Linked DNA regions of Homo sapiens. The protein of the gene in region 2 interacts with the protein of the main gene of each other region in a biochemical or structural test. Each region holds a gene or a part of one and is shown on either strand. Other genes may lie near its edges. The genes, in order: ITPR1 and AHCYL1.

Region 1 (13,217 bases), on a different chromosome or scaffold from region 2:
TAGTTATGAAAATTAAATGAGAATAAACGCAGGTGACGTGCAGGCACTTAGTGGATGCAGAGGAAATGACAAATTGTTGGCCACTCATTCACTTTTTAAAAAATGTTCTTAATTTTAATTTTTAATTTTTGTGGGTACGTAGTAGGTGTATATATTTATGGGGTACATGAGATGTTTTGATGTAGGCATGCAATGTGTAATAATCACATTGTAGAGAATGGGGTATCCATCCCCTCAAACATTTATTTTTTGTTACAAAGAATTCAGTTCTATTCTTTTAGTTATTTTAAAATGTACAATTAAATTATTGACTGTAATTACCCCATTTACCTACAAACAGTAGGTCTTATTCATTCTGTAATTACCCAATTTACCTACAAACAGTAGGTCTTATTCGTTCTTTCTATTTTTTTTTTTTTTTTTTTTACCTGTTAACATCCCCACCTCCCCCCTGCCCTCCCACTATCTTTCCCAGCCTCTGGTAACCATCCTTCTACTCTGTGTCCATGAGTTCAATTGTTTTGATTTTTAGATCCTACAAATAAGTGAGAAGATGCGATGTTTGTCTTTCTGTGCTTGGCTTATTTCACTTAGCATTATGACCTCCTCCAGTTCCATCCATGTTGTTGCAAATGACTGGATCTCACTCTTTTCATTCCCTTTTTCTTTTTTTTTTTAAGATGGAGTCTCGCTCTGTCACCCAGGCTGGAGGGCAGTGGCGAGATCTCAGCTCACTGCAACCTCCGCCTCCCGGGTTCAAGCAATTGTTCTGCCTCAGGCTCCCCAGTAGCTGCGACTACAGGCACGTGCCACCACACCCAGCTAATTTTTGTGTTTTTAATAGAGACGGGGTTTCACCATATTGGCCAGGCTGGTCTTGAACTCCTGACCTCGTGATCTGTCCGCCTTTGCCTCCCAAAGTGCTGGGATTACAGGCGTGAGCCACCGCGCTCGGCCTCATTCACTTTTTAGCACCTCTTGCTTATCAGTTAAACACTCCCCTCCCTCAGTATAATCAGTAAGAGTCTTGCAAGTTCAGTTGTTGGTTGAGCGTTTTTATTATAGATTAGTGAATTCTATTGATTGTATCTCATTCACACAGATCTGCTCCTCTTTCGTACACCCTCTCCCCATTTCTTTCCCCTTCTCTTGTCCTTCTAATTAAGACCCATATTTTCAGTTGAAGCGGGAAGCAATTTACAATGTGGGTGTCACAAATGATTACAATGGAGCACGGACACAGTTGCTGTAAAAACACCTACTACCACCCTTGAAAATAACCCGCATTTTCTGGAGCCTGCTCAAGGGCTCAGGTAGTGAGCAATGGAAGCACTTCCGTTAATTATCTCATTTAATCCGCAGGACAGCCCTCAGAAGTGACACATTATCCTTTTCTGTAGACGAGCATCAATTAAAGCACAGTGAAATTAGTAATTTCCCCAAATGAACGCTCCATAGCAGAACTCCGCTAATAAGATCCTAACTGGGCTTCCAACACACGTAGCCAAACATCAGGGCGTTGCCTCTCACCACTGTGGTTCCCCTGTGTCTCCACCACACCTTCCTTATGTGAGCTGCTTTCTTGTCTTGTTCCTTCTTCTCATCTTTGCCTCATCACCTCTTCCTTGACCACAGCCACTCCTGTCTTTCCTTCTTGTTTCCTCTTCCTTCTTTCTGGCATGTGGCTTTCTGGTGATGCCATAAACATTGGCATCAAGACTTAGAATGCTGCTGACATGTCTTGGTAAAGGTATGTTGGACCTGTGCACTTAAGGAAGAATTGGGGTCCAGGAGCCTAACCTCTGCTCTATCTACAGAAAATGTTTTGTTTCTGTTTCTGTTTAGATTCTTAGATTACCTCTCCGACCTCTGTGTCTCCATGAACAAATCAATTCCAGTGACCCAGGAACTGATATGTAAAGCTGTGCTGAACCCCACCAACGCTGACATCCTGATTGAGACCAAGTGAGTGGGGAGCCAGGGTTTAGATGGAAAACATGGGGTTCATTCAGTGTTGGTGCTCATGAGGAATAAAACCTAGCCCTATCATTTTTTGAGTTGATCTAAAGTCAGTGTGGCTGGCATTTGATCTTCTTATTGGAAAAGTCTTGATTAGGAGAATTCCCGAATTTGATTTTGGTGTCACCTCCTCTTCATAGTGGTGTCACTTATTTTGCATACAAGTTTAGAAGTCATGTAAACTCACCGGGGAGCATTTTATACAGCTACATTTTAAGAGTTTAAAACTCTTTGTAAGTGTGACCATCAATTTAAAATTTCAAATGACATAATGAATATTCAGTGTTAAGATTAAGTCAGTGTTGGGAGGAGTTTTAAATTATTACTGTTCAGAACATGTTTATTGGTCTGCAGAATTTTTGTTACCAGTAGTAATTCATTTTTGGCAAAGGAGCAGTTTTCCTGAGAAGTACAGTGCCGGTAATATGGACAGCCTTAAAAAACATACTAAATTACGTCCTGAGCTAGTGATACTTCATTGATTCACATGTATAACTCAGTTTTGGGCTTGGGCTAATGCAGGGTTTTTCAGTTTAGGTATTTTCACATTTCGGGCTTGGTAATTCTTTGTTGTGGGGCTGTGCTAGGCACTGTAAAATGTTCAGCAGCATCCCTGGCCCCTACCCACTTAGATGCCAGTAGCACCTCTCCATTTCGGTTGTGACAACCAAAAACCTGTCCAGAGACATTGCCTGGTGTCCACTGGGGGCAGCAGCACCATAGTCGAGAACCACTGGGTTACAGTATATGAAGATGTTAATGTCAGGCTCTCTGCGGCTCTGCCCTTGGGGGAAATACAAAACAAAAAGTGTCTTTCCATGTGTCTTTATGCTGAAAGTAAAGCTAGATCTCAAAGTATTTTTAAAAATAGTAACTTTTCCCTCCTCCTCTTGTTTTCTAGGTTGGTTCTTTCTCGTTTTGAATTTGAAGGTGTCTCTTCCACTGGAGAGAATGCTCTGGAGGCAGGAGAAGACGAGGAAGAGGTGTGGCTGTTTTGGAGGGACAGCAACAAAGAGATTCGCAGCAAGAGTGTGAGGGAATTGGCTCAGGATGCTAAAGAAGGGCAGAAGGAGGACCGAGACGTTCTCAGCTACTACAGGTGCGTGGGACACGTGTGGGGCTCAGATTGGGGTGCCCCAAAACAGTGGCACTTAGGAATTTGTTGCTCGTTTGTTGATTACTTCAAGGAATCACAAGGAGTCATCTTGTAAGATTGTCTAGAAAAAAGCCAGATGTGTGTTTTAGGAGTTTGGAGTGTAAGATTTCAGTTAGTTGACATCTGGATGTGGCTGGTTCCCAAAAAGGATGAGTGCTTGCCTCAGTCCCTGGTGATAGTTTATCCTTCAGCAGCATGGCCCATAGATATGGTGGTAGGTACGTAAGAGGCAGGCTGTGGGGTCACATCCCTACCTCTCCGCTTACCAGTTTTTTGACATTGGCCAAGTTTGATTTTATGCTCTAATTTCTTTATCTGCAAAATGAAGGTGATAGTGCCAATCTCACCAAATGTTTATAGACAGAGACAGAAGATGTGTGTGTTTGTATACACATATATCTACACATTCATCCATGTATCTTTCTATAACTACACAAATATATAATAAAAAGCATGTACTTACACTAATACTTCCAATTCCATTCCAACACCATAGGATTTATTCTAGCCTTCACCTTTTCCATTTCATGACTCCCTCCAGCTGCCACGATTCCCTGTATGTTTACCCATCTGCCCGTTTCCCTGTGTGTACCTGTCTCACCTCTGCCACCCACCTCCACGGTCCCCAGTGTCTCCTTGGCTCCAGCTGTAAGACCTGCCAGTCCTGCCACCTGAAGGGAAGGGAAGGGGAAGAAAGAAAGGAAGTGAACCAATTAATACTTTTAAAAGAAAAGGAAAGGGAAGATAAAGCAAGGCTTTTATTATTTTTTAATAAAATAAATAAAACTGCAGATAAAATGCCTTTTCTTGCCTCCTGTATTCTGTTCTTTCATTCATGTGTGATGTACGCATCCTATCCACATTCTCTGTGTGCTGCATTTGTATGCATCTGTAAATCATATGTAGTATTTTATCTCTACTTAAAATTTTATATAAATGGGACTGTACTCCAAATACCATTCTAAAACTTGCCTTATTTATTCAATACGGGTACTGAAGCCATATTGAATATATCTGCGTTAATAGAGATTAATCCATTTCTGTAATTTGGACTGTTGGATGATATTCTGTTTTATTGATTTATCACATTTTCATCGCTGTTTGATATTTGATCACATGCTGCAGTTCTTCATGTCAGGAAACATCTTCATTCAAATTTTTCTGAGTATATGTATGAATTTCCATTCCACACTGGGAGGTGGGCTTGGAGGATATTCATATTTTAAGCTTTACTAAGCAATTCTAAATTGGATGTGTCAGTGTACACACCCACCAGTTGTAGACGACAAGCTTTGTTTCTTCATGTCTTTGTTAACCTTGAATATCATGATGCTTTTTAATTTTTGGTAATTTTATAAGTGTGAAATAGACTCATGTCTACACTTGCATTTCCCCGACATCTAATGAGGCTGAGAATGTCTTCAAATCATGATTATTAGAAATACATAGAGTTTTTAATTCAGAAGGCAGTATTTTGAAAGCCTGTGGCTTTCTCGTTATTTCACATTTCAAGTATGTTTACTCTTTCAGTGTTTGATGAATCTTCTCCCAAGTGAATGAGAAAGAGTGCCTTAATTGGTCAGGTTCCAGTTAACAACATTCACTTGCAATTGGATGAAGATGAAAAGTGAGGAGTCTCCTACTTTTGTAAATGAAATGTTTTTTTACACGTGTAGGAATTAGAGTGACTTACATGATATAAGATCTTTAAAATGTTATAAAATTTCTAATTAGGCTGAATATGTGTGATATCTTGAACATTTCCTACATGGTCTTTACTGTATAAAACACAGCTGAAGGGAAAGAAATAGACAACCATCTTAGGCCTTAGCATTCCCCCCGTTTATTTTAAAAAGTAAACATTAAGGACCTAGTGGAATTAGGTCGTCACATAATTGCTCCAACACAGCTGGATAGACATGTGTTCCTGTTGGCTGTCAACCCACACTCTACTGCACAGCTTGAATAGTTCTTTTATCTGCTTGGTACCAAAGCCAAAATCCTGGTATACAAGAGCAATTTAGGGGTGTTGATGTATGAGTTTAGTTGGCCAAATGTCACTCCCATGACAGTCAGGGCTGCCCAGACGACCCTTCATTCATCCTGAATGATTTCTGGAGCGTGAGCTGTGTGCCCTTGTTCCTTCCTCTAGATATCAGCTGAACCTCTTTGCGAGGATGTGTCTGGACCGCCAATACCTGGCCATCAACGAAATCTCAGGCCAGCTGGATGTCGATCTCATTCTCCGCTGCATGTCTGACGAGAACCTGCCCTATGACCTCAGGGCGTCCTTCTGCCGCCTCATGCTTCACATGCATGTGGACCGAGATCCCCAGGAACAAGTCACCCCCGTGAAATATGCCCGCCTCTGGTCGGAGATTCCCTCGGAGATCGCCATTGACGAGTGAGCCTGGCACCTGAAAACCTCACTTTACATTATTCTGTGCGGCAGTAGATAGCCCCATATGGTCTCATTAAATCTTAGAAGAAAGATGAAGTGTTGGTTTTTTCTTCAAGCTTAAAATAAAATTAAGTGGATGGCAAATATTTTTTTCCTCAAGAATGTGAAAGATGGCATGATTATGTTTTTGGTTTTTGTTTGTTTGTTTGTTTGTTTGAGATGGAGTCTCACTCTGTTGCCCAGGCTGAACTGCAGTGGCGCAATCTCGGCTCACTACAAGCTCTGCCTCCCGGGTTCGTGCCATTCTCCTTCCTCAGCCTCCCAAGTAGCTGGGACTACAGACGCCCACCACCACGCCCGGCTAATTTTTTGTATTTTTAGTAGGGACGGGGTTTCACCGTGTTAGCTAGGACGGTCTCGATCTCCTGACCTTGTGAGCCGTCCACCTCGGCCTCCCAAAGTGCTGGGATTACAGGCGTGAGCCACCGCGCCTGGCCCCGATTGTATTTTTTATATCTCATTTATCTCCTCTTTCATTCTGCAAATATTTAAGTGTGTACTATGTGCCAAGCTCAAGAAATATATCAGTGAACAAACTAGAAAGCAATCTCTATGCTAGTTGGTGGAAGACAGACAATAGGCAAGATAAACGACTCAAATATATAGTTGGTGATATATGCTAAGGAGGGAAAAAATAAAGTAGGGTCAAGGGATGCCAAGGGTTAGGGGATGTTGACTTTTGAAGCTGAGTGACCCAGGAAGACCTCTCTGGGAATAACTTGAAATTTTGTTTCCTTTCTTTCTCCTTTCTTTTCAGCTATGATAGTAGTGGAGCTTCCAAAGATGAAATTAAGGAGAGATTTGCTCAGACCATGGAGTTTGTGGAGGAGTATTTAAGAGATGTGGTTTGTCAGAGGTTCCCTTTCTCTGATAAAGAGAAGAATAAGCTTACGTTTGAGGTAACTCATGATGAAATCTTCTATGTGTATTATCTGCCTCTCAGTGGTCATTTTTCTATGGGGCAAATAGAAAATATGTGAGTAGGTTGTGATTTTGGTCATGATGCTCTGGTTTTGTAATGGAAAGGAATTCAGCTTGGTTTTGTTCCAGAATAAAATAAAACGGATACCAGTCACATGGCTTAATAGTAGTTATGGGCTTAAAAGAAATATACAAGGTGACTTGAACCACATAAAATGATAGAACATCACTTTGTGTTAAAACTGACAAGAGAGAAACACTGTGCTTGCAATCTGCCATAGCTTAATCATTTGCAGAACATAAATCCTTGTTACTTCTGAGTTAACAACGTTTCTGAGACTGCTTTTGCCTTTTAAGAGCTGTATTGCTGAGGATCGCAGAGTGTTATTATCTGTGTCCTTATTGGGAATAACTCTGCTTGCCTGGTGTTAATATTATCCTTGGGAAGCTGTGTAGAGCAAATGATGAGGTCTTTTTTTTTTTTTGATTAGTCATCAGAGCAGATCAGTAGCTTTCCATTTCTTATTTTTCCTCCTTATGAAACAAAATGAAAATTTATCAGAAAGTGCAAGGAAAATACATGCCTTCTCTTACCATAAGGAAGGTCCAAGTCTGTCATTTCTAAACTGGTCAACATCAAATGGAATTGAAGGGGATGCAGTTTATGTAATACCGTCTTCTTCTTTTATTTTAATACAATAGGTTGTAAATTTAGCTAGGAATCTCATATACTTTGGTTTCTACAACTTCTCTGACCTTCTACGATTAACTAAGATCCTTCTGGCCATATTGGACTGTGTACATGTGACAACAATCTTCCCCATTAGCAAGATGGCGAAAGGAGAAGAGAATAAAGGTAACAATGATGTGGAGAAGCTGAAGAGTGAGTATCTGAGGGTGCCCATACATCTGAGAGATGCCCTCCAGCCTTTCCTGTTATGCTCATGTCATACCCTATATGTGATGCCACATCCTTTCTTTGTTCATTCCTTCCCAACTTTTCATCGTGAACATTTTCAAATACTGTGTAAAGAAAAGCGGAAAGAACAGTACGATGGAGTCCCACGTACCCATGACTTTGAGTCAACAGTTATTCACGTTTTGCTGAATTTTATTTTGTATTTATGTGTATTTATGTGTATTTTATTTTGTATTTATGTGTTTATGTATGAGTCGTGTGTATATTTTGTTGAACAATTTGAAAGTTACTTAACACTTTGAATGTTTATATAACAAATACATGTCCTATCATTGTTCTTGACATTCGTGAGACCCTTGATAATAATATTTGTTTAGGATGTAAGAAAATCCAGGCTTCTATCTTGGTGGCTATTTCCACTTTGTGAGAAGGACAATCTGCCTTTGCATGTTTATTTCTTCCTCGTTTTAGGGTCAGAGTAGGCAGATATTGGTATCATGTATCAATTATTGTTAACTGGTCTTCTGCAGCTAGAACAGAAAGAAATACATTGACTTATCTCTATTTGCTAGGTCTTGTGCTGAGTCATGTTGCATTATACCATTTAGTTCTTTTGTTGAGCTCCTTTATTTCCATTTTGTAGATGAGGAGACTGAGGCTTAGAGGTAGTATGGTGCACCTAAGGTCAAGCAGCATCAGGATTTGTACCTTGTTAACTTTATGTACCTAGTTCTGTGCTCATAACAAGCACATAGTTGATGATCAATAAAATTTGGGCAGGGCATAGTGATTCATACCTGTAATACTAACATTTTGGGAGGCTGTAGCAGGAGGATTGCTTGAGGCCAGGAGTTCGAGACCAGGCTGGGCAATATAGAGAGAACCTATCTCTACCAAAAAAAAAAAAAAAATTAGCTGGGTGTGGTGATGCATGCCTATAGTCCTAGCTACTTGAGACGTTGAGGCAGGAAGATTGTTTGAGCCCAGAAGTTTGAGGCCACAGGGAACCATCATTGTGTCACTGCACTCCAGCCTAGGTGATAGAGGAAGATCCTGTCTCTAAAGAAAATTAAAAAAAATAAAATTTGATGGGCAAGTTAGTGCACAGAAATGCCCCTCTGGGGATTTTGAAGCCCGTGATCTTTCTGTTGCTCTCAGAAGCCCAGATTTTTGATGTGCATTTACCTTTCCAGGTTTCCAGGGTCCTGAGATTATGTTGGAATAGGGATATGTTAAATAATTTCTCTCAAAGAGCCCCTGCCCCTTGACATATGCCTCTGAGCATTCTCTAGAGACATTGTGACCGTGGTCTCTCCTGGCCTTTCCTAGGCAGTAACGTGATGAGATCTATTCATGGCGTGGGAGAGCTGATGACCCAGGTGGTGCTCCGGGGAGGAGGCTTTTTGCCCATGACTCCCATGGCTGCTGCCCCTGAAGGCAATGTGAAGCAGGCAGAGCCTGAGAAGGAGGACATCATGGTCATGGACACCAAGCTGAAGATCATTGAGATACTCCAGGTATCCACTAGCTGGAGCTGGGGTAGGGAGGGTATGTCACAGAGGCGCCATTCAGATCCAGTCCCTCTGTTCTGATGGAGCCCAAGGCTTTCTGGGAAGAAAATGGGGGCAAATCCTTAGCTCATCCCTCCGTGTCATTTATGAGCTGGCTCCTCTTAATCCCTTTACTGCTTTCTCCTACCCTCCCAACATGGCCATGTCCCTCCAGCCATGTCAAGACTTGCCATTGTTATCTTAGCTTTCCATGATCATTGGCCTCCATGCCAACCCTCTGCCTAGAATTCACTTACCTCTGTGTCTCCATGTAGCTGCATCTCTGCTTATTGATCATAACTAGGTTCAGGGTTCCATCAACTTTGCAAAGCCTTCCTCCCTTCTTCCCTTTTTCATTCAATCAACAAATATTTATTGAGACCAACTCTGTGCCAAGTCCCCTTAAGCACTGGGAGGGTCCAGCAATGAAAAAAATAGATGAAATTCCTGCTTCTCTAGAATTTACATTTTGATAGAGGGGCATGGGCATGTATTAAGAATAAGTGCTAAGAGACGTTAAAAAGTAAAGGAGGGTCAGGATTGTTTGGAGACACTGAGGACAGGGGGCTGGGGTTATTGTGTTTGGTGAGGTTATCAGAGAAGGCCTCTCCAGTACAGTGACATGATTACACACCTGAATGAAGTGAGGAGATAGCCACACAGATATCTTGGGAAAGGGTATCTGAGGCAGAGGGAGCAGCAAACACAAAGACCCCATGGTGAAGAGGGCACATTTGGGAACAGGTGGGGTTCAAGAGGGAATGGGAGAAGATCAAGTCGGGGAGTAAATATATATAGCTTCTTGGACAGATTGCCTGTAAGGATGCACAGAGAAGTGGGGACATGGGCAGAGAGCGATTGTTGGTAACATGGTTTATTTTTGTTGTAATATTTTTTAAGTGGGTGGGTTATAACAAGCTTGTATGGTGAATAGGAATGATCATGTATACAGGGAGAGTTTGTTGCTGTTTGGGGAGAGAATAATTGTAAGAGCAAAGTCCTTCTGTAGGCAAGCGGGGGTGGAATCTAGTATATAGGGAAGGCTTGGTCGTAGGCATGAAACCCTCCCAAGCCTCTCTACAGCTTTGAACCCCACCCGACAACCTGCGCTTCCCTCTTTCTGTGCCGTGTAGGTAACTTTTATTCATCAACAAAATCATCTGCTCCTTAATGGAAAGAATTATGTGTTAGCACCTTCTTTTTTTTTATCCCATGTTGCCTGATCTCAACCCCAACAGATGTAGTAGAAATTCATAAATGTTTAAGATCTGGGGGTTTTATTTTTTAGTCTGAAATCACCCTTTACCAATGCTTTGAAAGTTTTAATGGGTTGTCTCAAAGTCATGTAATTAGGACGATAAAGACAGCTTAAGTAAAGGAGAAATCTTACTGAATTTATGCCTGAGCAACAGTAGAGAAAGATTCCTTTTTTAAAACTTTATTTTTTAATAAATTTTATTTTTACTTTTATTTTCAATTTTTTTTGTCGAGACAAAATATACATATAAAATTTGCAGGCCATGGTCCATGTGTTCCAAAGTGGTGTCTTGGACGTTTATCAGAAACGACGCAGTGCAAAACTTGGTCACATCTTGAGGTCCACTCACCGTGGTGACCTAAGAAGGATTGGTCGATTGAGTCATTCTTTCCACGGGTACTTATTGACTCCCTACCATGTGCACTGTGAGGAATGCAAAAATGATTCGAACAGGGGCTCCATCCACAGGGGTTTATAGTCTGATGGGAGAATAAGGTATGATGAAGCTGCGTGGATGTGGAAATAAAACCACCAGAAAGTTCTTCTGAGACTGGAGTCCGGGAGTGGGGTCATGTGACTCCACATGGTAAAGATCAGAGAAGGGTTGATGGAGGAGGTAGGGTTTCATCTGAGCCTTTAAGGTGCATGGGCTTTGTACATGGAGAAACAAGGGCCCGTTCTCAGGTGGATGGAGCAGCCTGAAGCCGAGTACCATGGGATGCAGGTCAGTGGGCAGTTCTTGCTGAGCAGAGACATAGAGTGTGCTGAGGGGAAGTTGTCAGAAGTGAGTTTGGAAAGGAGGACCAAGCCACACTGCACAGAGCTTTGGGTGTCTAAAATGCTAAGGCTTATTCTCTGTTGAGCCTTTGAAAGTCTTCAAGCGGGAGCTTAACATAAGAACAAGTGGTTAGGAGGCTGATTTGGTGAATTTGGTTCTGTAAATGGAACAGGCAGGAGATAATGAGGCCTTGAGCAGGGAGAAACGGCAGTAGGGGAGAACTCTATGAGAAGCGGTAAATGGAGAACCACCAGGACTTAGTCTCTGATTAGATGTGTGTCCAGGAAGGAGGCGCTGATGATCAGGCAACTGACTGAGGTTGAGGAAACCCAGGCAGAAAGTAGATGAAGGCAAGACTGACAATGTTAGTGTGTTAGCGCTCTCCAGAGAAACAGAACAAATAGGATACATACAGATAGACAAGAGGGGGTTTATTATGGGAATTGGCCTCACGCAGTTACGGAGGCCGAGAAGTCCCCCAGTCTGCCACAGCAAGCTGTGTCCCGGGAAAGCCAGTGGTGTGATTCAGCCTGAGTCCCAAGGCTGAGAACCAGGGGAGCTGAAGGTGTAACTCTCAGTCTGAGGCCAAAAGCCGGAGAACCTGGAGCTCTGATGGGCAGGAGAAGATGAGTGTCCCAGCTCCAGAACAGGTGGATTCGGTCTTCCTCCACCTGTTTGCTCTATCCAGGCCCTCCGTGGATTGGATGGTGCCCACTCACACTGGGTGAGAGCGGATCTTCTTTACTCAGCTCACTGATTCAAATGCCAGTCCATTCTGGAAACCCCCTCATAGATTTACCCGGAAATAAAGTTGTACAAGCTGTCTAGGTGTCCTTGAACCCAGTCAAGTTGGCATATAAAATTAACCATCGCAGTTACTTTTGTGAAACACTGAGTTTGAGGCCCTGGGAAGATAGCAAATAGGATGTCCAACAGTCTGTAGGACACATACACTGAGAGCATGGAGGCAGGCCAGAGACCTATCTCCCTCTGGAAGAGGTGATGGCCACTGGACTGGGAAAGGTTGCTGGGAGGCTAAGCAGAGACAAGGGGAGAACGGAAGGAAGAACGTGAGTGAGATCCCTACATGATGTCAGCTGCTCAATCTTTCTTTTTGGTTCTAGCAGCAATCCTGGGAAAAGTGACCCTGTGTTGGAATAAAGGGTGAGGGAATACAGGAGGCAAAAGAAGAGGGTGTCCAAGGGTTTGTACCCAAACCAGGGGAAACAACCAGAAACAGGAAATAGGAACCAAGCTAATTTTCCATAGTAAAAAACAAATTTTTTTTTGTTAATTCTCTTAAATCCAAAGCAGGCAACTTCACTCTTTTCAGTGTTAGGCCCAGAGTTGACATTCAATACTTACTGAAATGGAGTCTTGTTTTATAGACTCCATTTATGGAGCCAGGAGTGAGTGATTTAGTGTTCCAATTGTTAAATTAATTGCCAGGATGCTGAAGCTTACACTAGAGGCTAAGGTGCTATGGGCAGACTTCATATGCCCCATGGAAGTCTGCTGTTGTTAAAATGACTGTTGAAATCTAAGCCAAATACTTGGCTCACTTAGTGCTTAAGGTAATTGATGCAGCTGATACCAGGCCCCGCCAGTGTGTGGTGGCTTGGCAGAGTCAAGATGGTATGTTAATGTAACCAATCTGTTTCCATTTCCACTTGAATCTTTAGTTTATTTTGAATGTGAGGTTGGATTATAGGATCTCCTGCCTCCTGTGTATATTTAAGCGAGAGTTTGATGAAAGCAATTCCCAGACTTCAGAAACATCCTCCGGAAACAGCAGCCAAGAAGGGCCAAGTAATGTACCAGGTTAGTGATTCAGAATGGAATTTCAGCCATAGAATGGGACCTGGCTCTAAGGAAAATGGGGAGAGCAAACAGTATCTTCTAGAAAAAGGGTGAAAATGGTTTTGAGGATTATTGCACCAGGGCATCATCCTGGCAGTTACTCTTTTTGAGCAAGTGAATAATTGATAGAGCCCAGATTCCTTCTGGGTTGGATCTTGTTTCCTTCCATCTGGGAGTGTCTTAGTGATGAGACAGTTGAGGTTTCCAGCATTGTGGCTACCCACCTCCCCCGCAAAAATACCAAAATAAAAACAGTAACAAAAAACTCTCCAGGAGACTTCTTGACCACTAGCAG
Region 2 (10,252 bases):
TCAATTTTTTTTTTTTCACTTTTCCTTTCCTAACTCGCCAACCTCCAAATGCTAACTATTAATAGGATCTCCCTGTTACACAATAATGGGGTTTTCTGGGTTTTTTTTTAATATGTAAACCCACTTTCAGCAAACTTGACCTAGGAAAGTCTAGATTTGCAAACATATGATTGTTATAAAATGTTATAAAGACTTTTAGAAACCTATGTTTTATGCAAAGTTAAATACCAGTGCACCACCTCGCTGGAGTACACCCTTTTGTAACTTTCCAGTGTAGCACCTGTTGGTGCAGAGTTGATAGGTATTGCTATCTTGATGAGGCTTGCTCTCCATTCCTGGGTGGCCCTTCTCTTCCTCACCCTGTCTTCCTACACTTCTACACAGGTGTTGATTGAGACACTCTGTGCCCTGGGGGCTCAGTGCCGCTGGTCTGCTTGTAACATCTACTCAACTCAGAATGAAGTAGCTGCAGCACTGGCTGAGGCTGGTAAGTTCGGTTTTTTCCCACCAACTTTGCCCCAAAATAGTTATCCAAACATATAACTTTTTTGTATCAAAATTGTCATTACAATATCATATATGTCTAGAGGCTATAAAATTGTGCATGATAAAAACCTCAACAGGAAGAAAGTGGATAATAAAATTAAGATGGATATCCATGGTGGAATATTATGTAGTCATTAAAAATGGCCTTTGAAAATAATCTAATGGCATGGGGTCATGCCCAGTTCTAGTGTTAGTTGAACGAGGAAGAATGTTAAACTATATAAGTGCCATCAATTTTGTGAGAGAGCACAAGTAAGAAGTACCTTTCATATTGATAGTGCATTAAATAATTTGGTATTCAGTATGGCATTGAAAATATATGAGCTATTTGTGAGTTTAATTAAACGTAAAATAATTTTTTATTATTCAGGCCAGGCCTGGTGGCCCACGCCTATAATCCCAGCACTTTGGGAGGCCGAGGCGGGCAGATCACTTGAGGCCAAGAGTTCAAGAACGGTCTGGCCAACATGGTGAAACCCCACCTCTACTAAAAATACAAAAGTTAGCCGGGAGTGGTGGTGTGCGCCTGTAATCTCAGCTACTCAGGAGGCTGAGGTAGGAGAACCACTTGAACCTGGGAGGCAGAGGCTGCAGTGAGCCGAGATCATGCCACTGCACTGCAGCCTGGGCGACAGAGTGAAACTCCATCTCAAAAATTAATAACAATAATAATAATTTTTATTATTCAAATATTCAGAAGAAAATCACCGTGAAGTTTCTTTGAGGACCTCTCATCTTTCTTTCTTTTTTTTTTTTTCTTAAGATGGAGTCTTACTCTGTTGCCCAGGCTGGAGTGCAATGGCGCAGTCTCGGCTCACTGCAACCCCTGCCTCCTGGGTTCAAGTGATTCTCATGCCTCAGCCTCCTGAGTAGCTGGGATTGCAGTGGCATGCCACCACACCCAGCTAATTTTTGTATTTTTAGTAGAGATGGGGTTTCACCATGTTGGCCAGGCTGGTCTCGAACTCCTGACCTCAAGTGATCTGCCTGCCTTGGCCTCCCAAAGTGCTGGGATTACAGGCGTGAGACACCACACCCAGCCGGACCTCTCATCTTTTTAAGATCCTCAGAAAGCAACTTTATAATACTTTTGGGTTTTTTTGTTTATTCTTTTCTGATAAGTGTTCACTGCAAAAAATTTAGGAAGTTCCCCAAAACCCTACAATCCCACTACATAGAGTATTTGATTAATGTTTTTCCTTTTCCTTTCTTCTACTTTACATAAATTCTAATATGTATACAGTTTTATAACCTAAATACAATATTTTCAGACGTAGTTTTCCATGTCACTGAAAACTTTGACAGCATCATTTGTAATAGTCATTCATATGGCTATGTGATTTCACCTCACTATTTTCCTAATGGAGAACATTTAGGTTGTTTCAAGATGTTTACTAATATCAATAATGCTCCAGTTAACAACTTTTATTAATTCCCACTTCATTTTATCTCCTTCTAAGTATAAAATTAGTCCAGAGAAAGGAACACTTTAAGGTTCCAAACTACTTTTAAAGCAAAAATTCCTTAATTTCTTAACCTAATTAATTTCTGAACCAAAAGTGATTCTTTGACTTTTGGCTCTGAATTTTTTCCCTTCTGAAATTGTTTCTTTTGCCTTTTTCTCTTCACATGGATCTCAGAAAGTGATTTGGTACAGGACACTCCTCAAAGGAGGAATCAGCTGATTCATTTCTGTCTCTACAGGAGTTGCAGTGTTCGCTTGGAAGGGCGAGTCAGAAGATGACTTCTGGTGGTGTATTGACCGCTGTGTGAACATGGATGGGTGGCAGGCCAACATGGTAATAATGCATATACATCCTACACTTTGACAATAGATTTATTTCCTTTTTTTCCCTCAAAGCATGGTTCCCTAAATATGTTTTGGATGTTTGGTCTTATGCACTGACTTTGTTGCTAAAGTGTTTAGCTTGATACCTATTCAGAATGGGTCTGAGTACTGAATGGAAAGGTGGGGGAAGGGTAAGACTAGCTGAACACATGGCTCAAACACACCAGAACAAAATAGTGGTGCTTCTTTGGAGTAGGATTCTGCTTTCTTTCCTTCCTGCCCCAGTTCTCCTTTTGCATTCAAAGGGGCTATATATTTCAAGACTCTAGACTAAAAATGAGTCTGTGATTAGCTTAATACTCATCACTGTAGCCTAAAGCAAACCTAGGAATCCTTTTAACCATTTTACACCAACAAATTTGACTGTATTTCCACTCTCTAAGCCTGCTCTAGGGAGCTCTGAGGAGTACTCTTCCAAAACATACAGGGCTCTCTTACTAGTACAGAAAGTGGGTTCAAAGTTCCCCCCAGCCCTAGCAGCCTGAATGCCCATAGAAGTCTTCTGGCTGTTCTATAGATCCTGGATGATGGGGGAGACTTAACCCACTGGGTTTATAAGAAGTATCCAAACGTGTTTAAGAAGATCCGAGGCATTGTGGAAGAGAGCGTGACTGGTGTTCACAGGTAACAGATTCTGGAGTAGCTGCCCCTTGTGTCCTTGCCTCAGCAAACTCTCCTGGTCTCTGTTAGGCTTTAGGACTGTGTTTCAGACTTATAACTAAATGGGAATATCTTCATTAGATAAAATTTTGAGTTTTTACTTTTGAAAAATCAAGTTGATCCTAGAAGGAAGTTATTTCAGGTTCTAGTTCATACATTTTTCTCTCCCATTTACTCCATTGAGTGATTCTCAACTAGTGTTGAGGGGCGGGTAGGGAATAAATGTATCTTGAAAAACTGTATTCAATATTGTATTATCATTTTATATTTGAAATATGAAAAACAATCCTATTGTAAAACTACATGTTATACACACTACAAAAAGTAAAACTGGGCAAAATATTCTTGGCTTGTTGGAATACTGAAAAGATATCTGAAAGAGTGTTTCTTGGGGGCACATTGCGCATGCTTACTCACACACACACGGAACCATATCAGAATCATTGATAGTCTTTGTTTATCAGAAGTAGGCATGGGTTTCTATTGAAAAATGCTGATCAAAGGAAATAACACTCCCTATAAAGGGAAGAGAAGTACATTTCTTCAATTGAAAGGCTTTTTTTTTTCTTCCAAAAAAGGGGTAAAGGGAGAAGAAAATGAAAAGAAGTGTGGAGGGATGACAAGGAAATAATCATGTTTTCTAATATCCTTGGGCAATAAATGAGACTGGGAAGGGCAGCATGGAACTTGAAGAGAATTAGGCAGATTTTGCCACAAATTATGTTGTGCCAGCTAACTTGGTTTTTGTTTGTTTTTGTGACCTCTTCTCTCTTTAGGCTGTATCAGCTCTCCAAAGCTGGGAAGCTCTGTGTTCCGGCCATGAACGTCAATGATTCTGTTACCAAACAGAAGTTTGATAACTTGTACTGCTGCCGAGAATCCATTTTGGATGGGTAGGTTGAATGTATATATATTCAAACTTCTAGGGGCTCTGGTCTTCCTTTGGCTTTAAAAGTTTATTAGAGGGACCATTTCATACTGAGCTCAACCAGCTTCCAATTGATATTCTCATGGGCATTGGCCCACACTTTTAACTTTGTGAAGAGGGACTGAGTTTGAGCTATTAACGTTTGAGTTGAGCCCTTGTCTGTTTCCACAGCCTGAAGAGGACCACAGATGTGATGTTTGGTGGGAAACAAGTGGTGGTGTGTGGCTATGGTGAGGTAAATAGCTGGGTCTCAGTGTCTCTTTCTTTTTGTGTACTTATTAGAAATATTGGGTAAAGGAGGCTTGTGCTGTCAATCTAGAGTCACTGATACAAGGTTTAAATTTTTTTAGATAATGTATCTCAAACAATAGCAAAAGCCTTTTATTCAGATTTATGAATAGAAACATACAAAATGAATTGAGTTTTCAGATTTTACCATTTTGCCTTGTGGAATAGATACTAGTATCATCTTCCCCAATTATAACAATAACCTTTAATGAGACTTAATTCAAGTGAATATATAGCATTTTAGCCCCACAAGTGACTTGCAGTAGAATTAAGGGTGGAATCTGAAATGGCATATAGTTGAATATCTCCAAACTGGAATAGGTCACATATTTTGTTGTCTTCAGCAATGACCCAAAGAAGTTCCTGAGCTACGAGGGTATCCTTGAGTAGATTCTTCTCAAGTAAGAGAATAGGAAATTAGAGGTTGCTTAGAGTAAGTTGCTTTTGCTTAGTCTTGTTTCCCTGATGAAAACTGCTATGCAAAGCCCCAGTCCTTCCTATGACATGTCTGCTAAATTACCTCTCTAACTGAGGTTCACAACGTAATCTGGGTCTGTTTCTGTTCTGCTTGGGATTGGAGCGTCTGTGCAGCTGCTCACCAGATGACAGGCTATTTCATGAAGGTTAATTCCTGTCTCACAAATAACCTACCTACCCTAAATATCCATGACTTAATGAACCTAACGACTTGACCTTTCTTTTGTTCTGCAGGTAGGCAAGGGCTGCTGTGCTGCTCTCAAAGCTCTTGGAGCAATTGTCTACATTACCGAAATCGACCCCATCTGTGCTCTGCAGGCCTGGTAAGAACAGAGTGATAATACTATTAGATTCACTCTAGGTGCTTTATGTTATTGAGAGTTCATAATTGAGTATATTAATCATTTTTGCAGAAATCACCTAGGGGAAGAGAAGGCTAGGACTGCTCTGTTCTTCTCACTCTAACCCTAGGGCTCTCTGAGAGCCTCTTGGCATTTTTCCTTCCTAGAGGGAGTCTTGGGGACTCTGAAGAGGCCAGTGTATATAGTTTAGCAGAGCTTATCACTCACCATTCCTGTGAGGTGGCACTGGATCCAACTAGAAGGGGATCTTGTCTCATTTCATGACCATCTTCCCTCCCACTGCCTTCTTGCTTTACTCATAGTGTTCCTTTCTTTTCTTCCAGCATGGATGGGTTCAGGGTGGTAAAGCTAAATGAAGTCATCCGGCAAGTCGATGTCGTAATAACTTGCACAGGTAAATAACTTGCATAGAGAAGTGTTTATTCAGAGGCTAAATCTTGAAAGTAGTCTGAGTGACTTTCATACAAAGGAGGTGAGACCTCTGTTCAGTATAAAGGTCTCAGAACTAGAATAAGCTATCAGAACCTTAACATGTTTTCCAGAGTAAAAAACTTTTTTCCCTGGTGACTTTTTATACTGCTTGATCTGAAGACCAGATAGCCTAAGGAGCGGTTATGCATGTCTTCTCTCAGAATGTCTACATGTTCTTTAATGCCAGCAAGCCTCTGGTCTCCTATGTTCTACCTGAAAGCCAGCCAGTACCTTTGTTGCCCGGCATCTCTTTCCTTAACCACCCATCTTTTCTTTTAGGAAATAAGAATGTAGTGACACGGGAGCACTTGGATCGCATGAAAAACAGTTGTATCGTATGCAATATGGGCCACTCCAACACAGAAATCGATGTGGTAAGGCTTCTCTCATTTGTTGCTAGGCATTTCTCTACTACCTTTCATTAATAACCATAGTCAACTGTGCTTTCTTCCTTTCAGACCAGCCTCCGCACTCCGGAGCTGACGTGGGAGCGAGTACGTTCTCAGGTGGACCATGTCATCTGGCCAGATGGCAAACGAGTTGTCCTCCTGGCAGAGGTACACACAGAGAAGGACCCTGGCAGAGCAGCACAAGCAGAGTAGTTAGATCTATGAGGGGGGAGGGGAGGGAAACAAATATTAGGCCTATGTTTCCCTGAATTTTATCTTTGGAGAGAGAGATATTTCACAAATTGGTCCCCAAAATAAAACCACTTTAAAAAAATCTACTTTTTACTAAGTAACACTATTTCCTAACCACAGCTGATTCTTTAACCTTTCAGACTCAGATGGATTTGCAGAAAATAGGAAAAAGCCTAGAGTCCTGATCTGGAACTGTAATTCTTCCTCTTCCAACTGAGTCTAGAGGGGTGTAAAGTCCTCTCCCGCTTTGGCTTGACTTGTATGCCATTGGAATCTGAGACAGAGCTCATCCCAGGGCTCTCTCTTACCTTTCCAGGGTCGTCTACTCAATTTGAGCTGCTCCACAGTTCCCACCTTTGTTCTGTCCATCACAGCCACAACACAGGTATGTGGCAAAATGCCTGCTTACACTGCACTGCAATTTGTGGAACTGGGCGTAGATCAGTTCCAGTGAGGGTGTACTGTACTATGTTCTCATCATCCTATTCTTTTTTGATGTAATAAATTGTGGAAACAGGTATTCTTAAGTATAGAAAAGAGTCACTAAGTCAGTATTCGTTGAATTGGCTGTTTTAGTTGAGAATATAATGTTCCAGCTTAGTTTTATTTGATTTGTTCTTTCGTTAGGAACTAAACAAAAACAACAAATCCTCTTAGGATGTGTGCTGCCCTTTAGTATAGGCAAAGTCCTAGGTACTGTGACTGTGGTAGATCACTGTAGTACTTACCCAAATGCTGTTTAACCTGGTTTTATTTTTATGTGCCTGTCTAAGAAATATTTTTGTGCTTTCTGGCCTTCTTTTCCCACCTTAGGCTTTGGCACTGATAGAACTCTATAATGCACCCGAGGGGCGATACAAGCAGGATGTGTACTTGCTTCCTAAGAAAATGGGTGAGTGAAAAACAGTGGAAATCTATGCAGACAGCTGCATAGTTTGGTAAAATGACTGCCATGAAAGGCATTGGATTTAGAGTCAGAGTTCCAATTCCTGTTCCTGTGCTTACTGGTTGTTTGACCTCAGGACAAGTTCTAATCTCTATGATCCTCAGTTTCTTGATTGGTAAAATGAAAATAATACTACATACATTGTAGAATTGTGTGAGAATCACAGCTAATGAGTAACAGTGCTTAACACAATGGTTTAGGGAGATGTTCTTACTCTAAGTAGCCTTATGAAGTTCAGTAAACTTCCCAGTGCAGCTGAGTACATACAGCCTTGGAACAAAATGAGAGAAACAAACACAGGTTTTATTGTCCATTTTCTGTGAGGATATGCAAACCATCCAATCTCTTGTAAGCAACCCATGCTGTGTTCATGTGACATAATACATCATCTCTAGTCCTTTGCCTTTCTGCACGGTGTACCCATCTCCCATATCTCCTTGGCTAGCCCAAATCCCTGACTTCTTAATGCTAAAATACTTCTTGCTCTCCTCTCCTCCAATAGCTTACTTCAGACTTTTTTTTCAGTGTATAATTATAAAAGGGAAGCTTATCTATGGAAAAGTAAAAATTCTGTGCCGACTACCTTAGAAATTCATGATCCTAAGATCCATGGATCTTATCCTAAATGAGTGTTATTGACACAGGGTCTTTCTAGCTTACTGGTGTCCACTTTGATTGCTAATTTGACTATAATCTAGTTAAGGAGGTTGCTGCAGGAAGGTAGGAGTAGCATGTGACATGTGGGCCACTGCAGGGAAGCCCCCTGCTTTGCCAGAGAAGGATAGAGAGGTAAAAGCCCACTCCCTTTTGTTACCCTGGTAAGTGGCTTTTCTGAACGCACTGTACATGTGCTGAGAGAAGCATCCTGCCCAGAAAGGCAGCTTTGAGGTTTTTTTTTTAATTAAGCAAATATTTCAAGTTGTGGATTCTTTCAGAGTTATTCCATCCCTTGTCTGCTTTCTTAAAAAAGCTTCAAATGAAAATGGGAAGTTATAACTTGAGAGACATTTTGAAAAGGAGTCTGCTCTCCTGCCACTTTGCTCTTCCTAGATGAATACGTTGCCAGCTTGCATCTGCCATCATTTGATGCCCACCTTACAGAGCTGACAGATGACCAAGCAAAATATCTGGGACTCAACAAAAATGGGCCATTCAAACCTAATTATTACAGGTAACCTGGGGAGAAGCAAGTGAAAAGCTCTTTTTCCCAGTATTAAACCAAGCAGGCTAGCCTGCTTCTGACATAAAGATCAAATGTTGTACCTGATTTTGAAGAATACAAGAAATCTGTTCCAGGCCAGGCACGGTGGCTCACGCCTGTAATCCCAGCACTTTGAGAGGCCTAGGCGGATGGATCACTTGAGGTCAGGAGTTCAAGACCAGCCTGGCCAACATGGCGAAACCCTATCTCTTAGCCGGGTGTGGTGGCGGGCACCTGTCATCCCAGTTACTCAGGTGGCTGAGGCACGAGAATCACTTGAACCTGGGAGGCGGAGGTTGCAGTGAGCTGGGATCATGCCACTGCACTCCAGCCTGGGTGATGGAGTGAGACTCTGTCTTAAAAACAAACAAACAAACAAAAAAACTGTTCCAGTTAACAAGGTAGATAGAGAAATTGTGGGAGATATCAGGGAGTTAGGGTTTTTTTGAAATTTTGGAGCCTGGGCCTCACCCTAAGAGATTCTGATATATTTGGTCTGCGATGGGACCAAATTTACAAAACATTATTTTGTAAAACCTCCCCAGATTATTGTAATGTTTAGTCAGGGTTGAAAAAACACTGACTCATTCCTGGGAACAGGCGGTAACACCAGAAATGGCATTGTCAGAGACCCTGTGGAAGAATAAGGGAGACTGGTGCCCTGGGGAATGACTGCAGGGATCCCACCCAGGCTGGGGAGGGGCCCTGGAGAAGGTGCTCTGTTTCCGATTGTTTTTTGGAATTCTCATATGGAAGACATAAGTGTTAACCAATCACTCTCTCTCTTTACAGATACTAATGGACCATACTACCAAGGACCAGTCCACCTGAACCACACACTCTAAAGAAATATTTTTTAAGATAACTTTTATTTTCTTCTTACTCCTTTCCTCTTGATTTTTTTCCTATAATTTCATTCTTGTTTTTTCATCTCATTATCCAAGTTCTGCAGACCACACAGGAACTTGCTTCATGGCTCTTTAGATGAAATAGAAGTTCAGGGTTCCTCACTCTAGTCACTAAAGAAGGATTTTACTCTCCCAGCCCAGAAAGGTGATTCTTTCTTTACCATTTCTGGGGACTTTAGTCTTAATTAGGTACCTTATTAACAGGAAATGCTAAGGTACCTTCTCTGTGGAACAATCTGCAATGTCTAAATCGCCTTAAAAGAGCCCATTTCTTAGCTGCTGAAATCAGTGCTCTTTCACTTCTTCAGAGAAGCAGGGATGGTACCTACCCGGCAGGTAGGTTAGATGTGGGTGGTGCATGTTAATTTCCCTTAGAAGTTCCAAGCCCTGTTTCCTGCGTAAAGGTGGTATGTCCAGTTCAGAGATGTGTATAATGAGCATGGCTTGTTAAGATCAGGAGGCCCACTTGGATTTATAGTATAGCCCTTCCTCCACTCCCACCAGACTTGCTCATTTTTCGAGTTTTTAACTAGACTACACTCTATTGAGTTTAATTTTGTCCTCTAGGATTTATTTCTGTTGTCCAAAAAAAAAAAAAAAGAAAAGAAAAATTAAGGAGAATTTTTGGTGTTAATGCTGAGGAATTGCTTGAGTGGTTAGTTGTTACCAATTTCTCTTTTGAACCTTTGGAGCTAAGGATGCTGAGTCTAGAGAAATGCTAGTCTCAAGCCCTGTTAAGTCCCTCTGTTTCTAGCCCGTAGTTCATAGCATCAGTGAACTGGAGCCACAACAGCAAATTCTATCAGCTGTGTACCATACAGCTTGTGCTGAAGGCGAATTTCTTGAGCCATTACTCAGTATAAAGCACTGAGTTCTATCTTTAGGATTTATCTTTAAGAGCAAATTTCTGGTCAGCTGTGCTTCTGCAACCTAAAATATTTAAAGGGAGGTAGGTGTGGGCAGGAGGAGGAATGA

What was found.
Region 1: the proteins of AHCYL1 (region 2) and ITPR1 form a complex in vitro, tested with the Homo sapiens proteins (one study listed by BioGRID).

Annotation. Positions count from the first base shown.
Region 1 is NC_000003.12:4,667,809-4,681,025, forward strand, and holds part of ITPR1 (inositol 1,4,5-trisphosphate-gated calcium channel ITPR1), read left to right. Parts: intron 1-1,845; coding exon 1,846-1,965; intron 1,966-2,920; coding exon 2,921-3,118; intron 3,119-5,327; coding exon 5,328-5,579; intron 5,580-6,393; coding exon 6,394-6,535; intron 6,536-7,259; coding exon 7,260-7,440; intron 7,441-8,805; coding exon 8,806-8,993; intron 8,994-12,744; coding exon 12,745-12,883; intron 12,884-13,217. UniProt on the Homo sapiens protein: Inositol 1,4,5-trisphosphate-gated calcium channel that, upon inositol 1,4,5-trisphosphate binding, mediates calcium release from the endoplasmic reticulum (ER).
Region 2 is NC_000001.11:110,012,513-110,022,764, forward strand, and holds part of AHCYL1 (S-adenosylhomocysteine hydrolase-like protein 1), read left to right. Parts: intron 1-384; coding exon 385-487; intron 488-2,250; coding exon 2,251-2,345; intron 2,346-2,912; coding exon 2,913-3,019; intron 3,020-3,831; coding exon 3,832-3,948; intron 3,949-4,154; coding exon 4,155-4,218; intron 4,219-4,982; coding exon 4,983-5,071; intron 5,072-5,433; coding exon 5,434-5,504; intron 5,505-5,860; coding exon 5,861-5,955; intron 5,956-6,039; coding exon 6,040-6,138; intron 6,139-6,362; coding exon of another isoform or gene 6,363-6,407; exon of another isoform or gene 6,408-6,538; coding exon 6,539-6,607; intron 6,608-7,035; coding exon 7,036-7,114; intron 7,115-8,218; coding exon 8,219-8,339; intron 8,340-9,161; coding exon 9,162-9,168; coding exon of another isoform or gene 9,169-9,214; 3' UTR 9,215-10,252. UniProt on the Homo sapiens protein: Multifaceted cellular regulator which coordinates several essential cellular functions including regulation of epithelial HCO3(-) and fluid secretion, mRNA processing and DNA replication.